Linked DNA regions of Homo sapiens. The protein of the gene in region 2 purifies or fractionates together with the protein of the main gene of each other region. This does not show direct contact. Each region holds a gene or a part of one and is shown on either strand. Other genes may lie near its edges.

Region 1 (2,243 bases), on a different chromosome or scaffold from region 2:
AGAAGAGTAACAGAGGGGCAGGAACAAGGGGTCCTGCCTCCATCAATCCTTAGTCCAGCTCCGTCCCTTTCCTGCCCCCCATCACCCCACACACACACACACATGTTTCTCTCTCATCTGCTGCTGCGTGCTTGCTCTGTCCCGGACACACCAATACAAGGAAGACACCCCATCAACGCTCCCATCCTACCAGTACATCTAACTTCCACCCCTTCCACTATAGCCCAGCCTTCCTGAACATGAACTACAAAGATTGACAGTTAGGCTCTCAAGGTCTAGGAAGTTTGACCAGAGGCTGCCTTACCAGCAGGTGAGCCAGGTGACCATGGGAATGGGATCCAAACTATAGTCAAAGGTGAGAGTGACAGGTCCATGGAGTAGGGGTAGGCAGCTGAGGGGAACCTGAGTGGGGGAAGATCCCAGAGAGCTGTCCCCCTACCTGAATCCCAATGCCTCCCTCCTGGAACGACGTCATCCCAATAACTGGCAAGAGACACAGCCAAGGGATAATAAATATAATTGCTATGACGGGACCTTGCCTAGAGAAGCAGGAACATCCTCTACTCCCAGCCCCCACCTGTCCCTTCCCACATGCTGAGGGTGAATTAGATACTTTGAGATCACCCTGGGGCTGCTGGGAGCTATGGGGGATGCTGAGGGCAGGCCCCAGTATTCCGGCTAACCACTCCCAGCCCCTGGGCCGGCCCCCTAGCCCAGGACATCCAGGTAGACAGGAGGTGCCTGGGCCAGGGCTTGCAGCCGGGCGTGCACATCCTTGATGCTGTGGCGTTGCTGGGGCTCCCGCTGCCAGCAGCCCCGCATGATGGCGTAGACCTCTGGTGGGCAGGCACGTGGCCGCTCCAACTCACGTCCCTGCGTGATGCAGTCGATTGCCTGGGGCCACCGGAGAGACAGAGGAGAAAGCCCACTAGGCTGGGGGCAAGAGAGTGAGGCCAGTCCCAGTGCCCTCACTGAGGCTCCCAAGGCAGCTCACACTACTCGTCTGGGCTTCTTAGCTGCTAATAACCCGAATGGACACAGTCAACCCCAGGATTCATTTCTGCTCTGACACTGAGAAGTGAGAAGGATTAAGGCTCGACTATGGGAAGCTTGGGCTGGGGTAGGATTGCTTCCAGAAAACTGGGATCAGATCCTAAGAAGACTTGCCAGGTGGGTTGAGGAAGGCGAGGGGCTGAGGTATTTATCAATCCATCAGCTTAGTGTTGGGGGCTGAAAGGAGGAGGAGAAGGGCCCTCTGACTCTCAGCTCCAGAGAGAGAAAAGAAAATAGAGCAGAACTGCAGTTAAAGGGCGTGAAAAATAGCTGGCTTTCATTTTAAAGAAGAGGGCAATCCTTACTTCTCCCTTCTAGGGATACCACTCTGTGGGACTGACTAGCTCTCCCAAAAAGAAACTGCAGCAAGAAAGATCAAAGTTAGACTCTAGGAAGAACTGCTAAAGCAGCCAAGGAATCCAAAGGAGAAAGGGTGGCAGGGAGTGATTGGAGAAGGGGCCTGGAGCCTCTTTTCCCCTTCTTCCCCCCTCCCTATTAGAGGACTTGGGTTATGGGCGGCACTAATTCCATTTCTTCTCTCAGTGCTTGAGAAAATTAAAATCTATAACCCTCTCCCCCACCCCACCAGCCTCCGGGGAGCAGACTGCATTAGGAGGAGAAATGGAAACTGACAGCTGCGAGCCAAGCAGGGGGTGGGGGCAGCTGCTCTGGGAGACAGAACACCTGGGGCCTGCTCTGGCTGTGGCCAGCTAGGAGGGCAGGGGGAGGGGGTAGGACTGTCCTTCTGACAGTCTAACCTCCAGCCGTCCTGCTGCAGTGTTGGGCCTTCTTGTGCTGGGTTCCTCTTCCCGTGCTGGTCCCTTCCACTCTGATAATTCCTGCTTAGGTCTATAAAATGCAGCTAGGGATGGGGGTCTGGGCTCCTTGTACAAAGCACTTTGAGGTTCCCCCAGGGGCCAACTGGGCCTGGGCTTAGGACAGTAGGTGAAGGCAAGAATAAGGGAGGAAGAGAAGAAAAGGGCCACAGTGGAGGGGACACAGTGTGGGCACGGCGCTGGAAAGGGCCCCCCAACAGGCTGTGGCAGAGGGGCAGAAGGGGAACCGAGTTCCCTGAAAAAGGAACCTGAAGGGGCATGGGACGGGGAGGCCAGCAAGGGGTGACCATGGGCCGGGGCTGACCTCCGTGTTGGAGAGCTGGTACCAGGGCTGCTTGCCGTAGGTGAAGATCT
Region 2 (4,016 bases):
GGGAGTCAATAGGCATTACATGCAAAAAAGTTTCCGCAGTCAAGTAAGTTTGCAAAACCCTGGGTGTAAAGCAAAGCTAAAGATACTCCTTGCTGCAGGACTTCTCAGAGCCTTTAATACACTCACATGGATTGTGAAATCACAAAAGTATATAAACTGTGTAGTGGACCTGGAATCCACTGAGAAACACTGGACTAAGACAAGCACTTTGCTATGACTACTGTCAAATGTGAATAAAGGGGTGGCTTCTACAGTGAAAATTTCCACTGAACCTTTGCATTACGTAAACCAAGTACTGGATTCTGGTGATTGTGTGAGCAATAGATTCTCAAGCAGAATTGTGCCAGATAGGTACAGAGTCCACCTCTGGCCTCAGCATTTGCTCAGCCTTCTTCAGAGCCTATCCTGTCCCTTGTCTTTCCAAGGAAAGAGACAGCTACTTAGGCACGTGTCCATTTTCTTAGGTTCCTAGATGATTCCAATATGTCCCCTTGCTTAAAAACCACTGTTGTGGAAAAAGCTAGGCTTTGGATACAAATAGATGTAGATAACTCTAACTAAAGCATTTTGGGAAAAATCATTTTATGTTTCAGTTTATTGTTTATAAAATGAGGAGGTTAGTCTAGATCGGTGATTAAACATATTTTAACATGTATACAGTGAAAATCTTTGCTCCAGTGAAATTTTATATGGAATTCCAGTGCACAGAACAGATGCAAGCAGGACTATTCTTGTCAAAACTATGGAGGGCCTGGGCCTTGTGCCCCTGCCTGTCTGTCCTTCACTCCAGTCACAGCCTGGGTTCCCTAGAAAGTAGAGCTCAAGGAAGAAGCTATGTGTTATGACTTTATTGAGGGGTGAGATCCCGGGGAAGCAAAAATGAAGCAAAGGAGGAGAGGTAGGGAAGGAAGGAGAACAAATAGTGTATTACCAAGCTGGCCCTGCCTTCCCAGTGAAAAGCAGCTGGTGGCTCAGTCACTCAGGAGGTATCCAGGGAAGCCTGGTGTGAACAGTATGTCTCAGAATAGTCTGTGGTGGTGAGGCACAGCCAGCAGTTAATCCACAGGTCCTTCTGGTCTGCTGTAGCTCACTGGTCACAAGTCACCCCACGAGGCATGAGTCAACTCCCCTCACTTTGGGGTTGGGAATACCAGGTCAAGCTAGAGCCTCTGTGGGTCAGGCCCTGGGGCTGGGGCTTCCTTGGCTCTCCCTGCAGAAGGTATGTCAGGGTTACCCCTGCAGGAGCCCAGCCTTTGACTCTGAAGGAAGAAAAGACAGCAAGAACTTTAGGGCCAGAGGAACAGCAGAAAGCGTCACTGGGGGCCTCTTGTCCATTAGATACTGACTCTGTTTTCCTCCCTAAATACATATGCTTGCCCCTAACCACTGATTGATGTGAGCAACTCACTGACTTAGAGACGTGGGTCTGCGGTAGGGCATCTGCCTGAGAGTTGCGGCTCCTAGAGGGTAGGGTCAGCCTCTGCTTCCAGCAGTGTCTTGTTTAATCAAGAGCTCAATTCCTGCTTTTTAATAATGGTGAAGAAGCTGCTCCTGGCAGTGGCAATGATAACAAGGATTCAACAGGAAAATGGCTGCAGTTCAGAATTGGGGTGGGGTGGCGTGATGTCAGGTGGGACTCAGCAGATTTGGGCAGATACATAAATTGGGAGTCTGGGATAATGGTTTCCATGCAAAGAACATAAAGTTCTTCAGAACAGAGTCAGATGGCAAGACAGGGCAGGGTACTCCAATTAGGAGCCCCAGAATTCACGAGTCTGTGTCAACACTAGTCGACTACACTATTATCCCATTTAAACCCCAAATAGAAACCACATTAAGAATGGGTGCCAATCCGATTTCTGAAGACTTTTCTAATGTTTTGGGGCTTACTAAGCAACAGCCAGCCTTCCGCATAGTGGTGTGTGACTATTTCAGGGATGGCACGGCTGCTGGGAAGCAGGGGGAGGTCGTAATGACCTCTGCCACCCTCCCAGTTTTAAGAAATAATGAAAGCACTGAAATATAATGCAACAGGGGACATTTCTGCATAAAATATTTCCTGTAAGTCATTGCTTCTAGCTAGTCCTGCCCCTCATCAACGTTTTTTACTACTCTTGTGCTTTGAAGGCCCTTTAGGGTCAGGCTGGGGAGAGGACTAATGGTCATGCTGTGCTTGTGACCTCTTTCCCTGCTCTCTTGTCCATTAGATACTGACCCTATCTTCCTCCCTAAATGCACTTGCCCCTAACCACTGATTGATGTGAGCAAATCACTGACCTAGAGACGTGGGCCTGCATTAGGGTTTCTGCCTGAGAGTTGCAGCTCCCAGAAGGTAGGGTCAGCCCCTGCTTCAAGCAGTTTTTTGTTTCATCAGTAACTCAATTCATGCTTTTTAATAATGGTGAAGAAGCTGCTACTGGCAGTGGCAATGAAAACAGTGGGAATCATGTATTTCTTTATGTTTTAGGTTGAGAGGGATCATTTCTTACTTCTTGTATACTCATTGCCCAACCCAGAGCCTATCTTACTGGAAGCAATTGATAAATATTTGCTGTAAAAATAGAAGGAATAAATGGAGTAGGATAAGGTGGAGAAGAATGACCTTAAAAATATCAAGGCTAGGGTGAACCAGACTAATATGGTGGGTTCTTACTCTGCAGCAGGGACAGAGTAGGGATCACATCAAGTCAGACTGACTGGCTATTCCAGAGGATTCAGATGAATCCAGATGGGTACAGGCTGAGCCCCTCAGTTACCCTCCAGCATCCTGGGTCATAGTGGTTGGGGACAGGTAGGTGCAGTGGTCTTGCACATGGATGCACATGGAATTAAATTATTTCTCTCTGTGTAAAACTCACTATGGGTTTTGGCACTGATAGATTGCGGCGGGGGGTGGGGGGGAGACCAAGCTGAATTTAGCAGAACATTCCAAAGACTAGTCTATAAAATCCTCCATGGAAAGAGCATTCTGTGACCAAGTAAGTTTTGCAAGCATCCTCTCTTTTGTCCTCTTCAGGAGATGCATAAGGGCGAATTAAAGGTGAAGAAGACCTGTTGTTGGGAAACCTATTTATTCTTTGCCCACTGCTTTTCAGGTTATTGGGCCATGGGGATCCGTTTGTGTGGGAGTATTTAAGCCTATTGATGTCTCCTGGAAAGACGGTTCCATAGAAAGGCATTTTGGGAGATGGTGACCTTCAACTGGAAGCTTTCAAGTTTTGGTTTACTTCAGAGGTGAAAAAACCAGAAGAATGAATTCACTGTACTGATAAAATAGGGACTTGTAGGGACTTGTGACCCCAACTTTCAGAGGCACCGCCTGCCTCTTGTCCTTGTCATTTGCTTTTGAGACTCCCAGAAATGACTGCGAATTCTCACAAAACTTTAGCGACAGTGGCCTTGTGATCTGCCTTCAGGTGTATATTTCATAAAGAAACAAATTCAAAAAGTGTGAATGCCACTCTGACAGGTTTGTGGACATGTTTCCCACAAGTGGCACTTTTTGGTTGCACATAACAGATCAAGATGGATGTTTGCAAAATATGTGAGTAATGACATTCACCTTCTCAATTTTTTTTTCTCCAACTGCTTGAATAAGAGGCTTCAATATAACTGACAAAGATAAATGTTCTTTATCAAATTAACAAAGGAAGCTTGAGTTATTAAGACACATCTCCCTAAACTTTGGACGGTTGAAACAAATTTTCTCTTGGGAAGAGAAAACTTTGCCATCCAAGAAAAGGCTGAGGATTTCTAATTAGACTGTAAATCCATGGTTTCCACCACTGGGTAGTGACCTGGAGAGTGAAGTTAGGCATTTCCCATGGAAAGCGTTTTCACTGCCTGGCATTCATCTCACATAGGTAATGATTGTATGTGTGTGTGTGTGAGAGAGAGAGGGAGAGTGTGGGAGTGTGTATGTGGGTTGGGGTAAAAGGGGGTACCCTCTCAGTGGTATTTGGGTTTGAATCACTTGGGGATACTGGTAATTCACGTGCCCAATTATAGAGCCCCCC

The links.
Region 1: the proteins of PLXNA4 (region 2) and NTRK1 purify together in Homo sapiens (affinity purification with western blotting; 2 studies listed by BioGRID, with this or other methods). This does not show direct contact.

What each region holds. Positions count from the first base shown.
Region 1 is NC_000001.11:156,880,108-156,882,350, reverse strand, and holds the end of NTRK1 (high affinity nerve growth factor receptor isoform 2 precursor), read right to left. Parts: coding exon 2,194-2,243; intron 895-2,193; coding exon 709-894; 3' UTR 501-708; downstream 1-500. UniProt on the Homo sapiens protein: Receptor tyrosine kinase involved in the development and the maturation of the central and peripheral nervous systems through regulation of proliferation, differentiation and survival of sympathetic and nervous neurons.
Region 2 is NC_000007.14:132,566,178-132,570,193, reverse strand, and holds part of PLXNA4 (plexin-A4 isoform 1 precursor), read left to right. Parts: intron 1-4,016. UniProt on the Homo sapiens protein: Coreceptor for SEMA3A. Necessary for signaling by class 3 semaphorins and subsequent remodeling of the cytoskeleton. Plays a role in axon guidance in the developing nervous system. Class 3 semaphorins bind to a complex composed of a neuropilin and a plexin.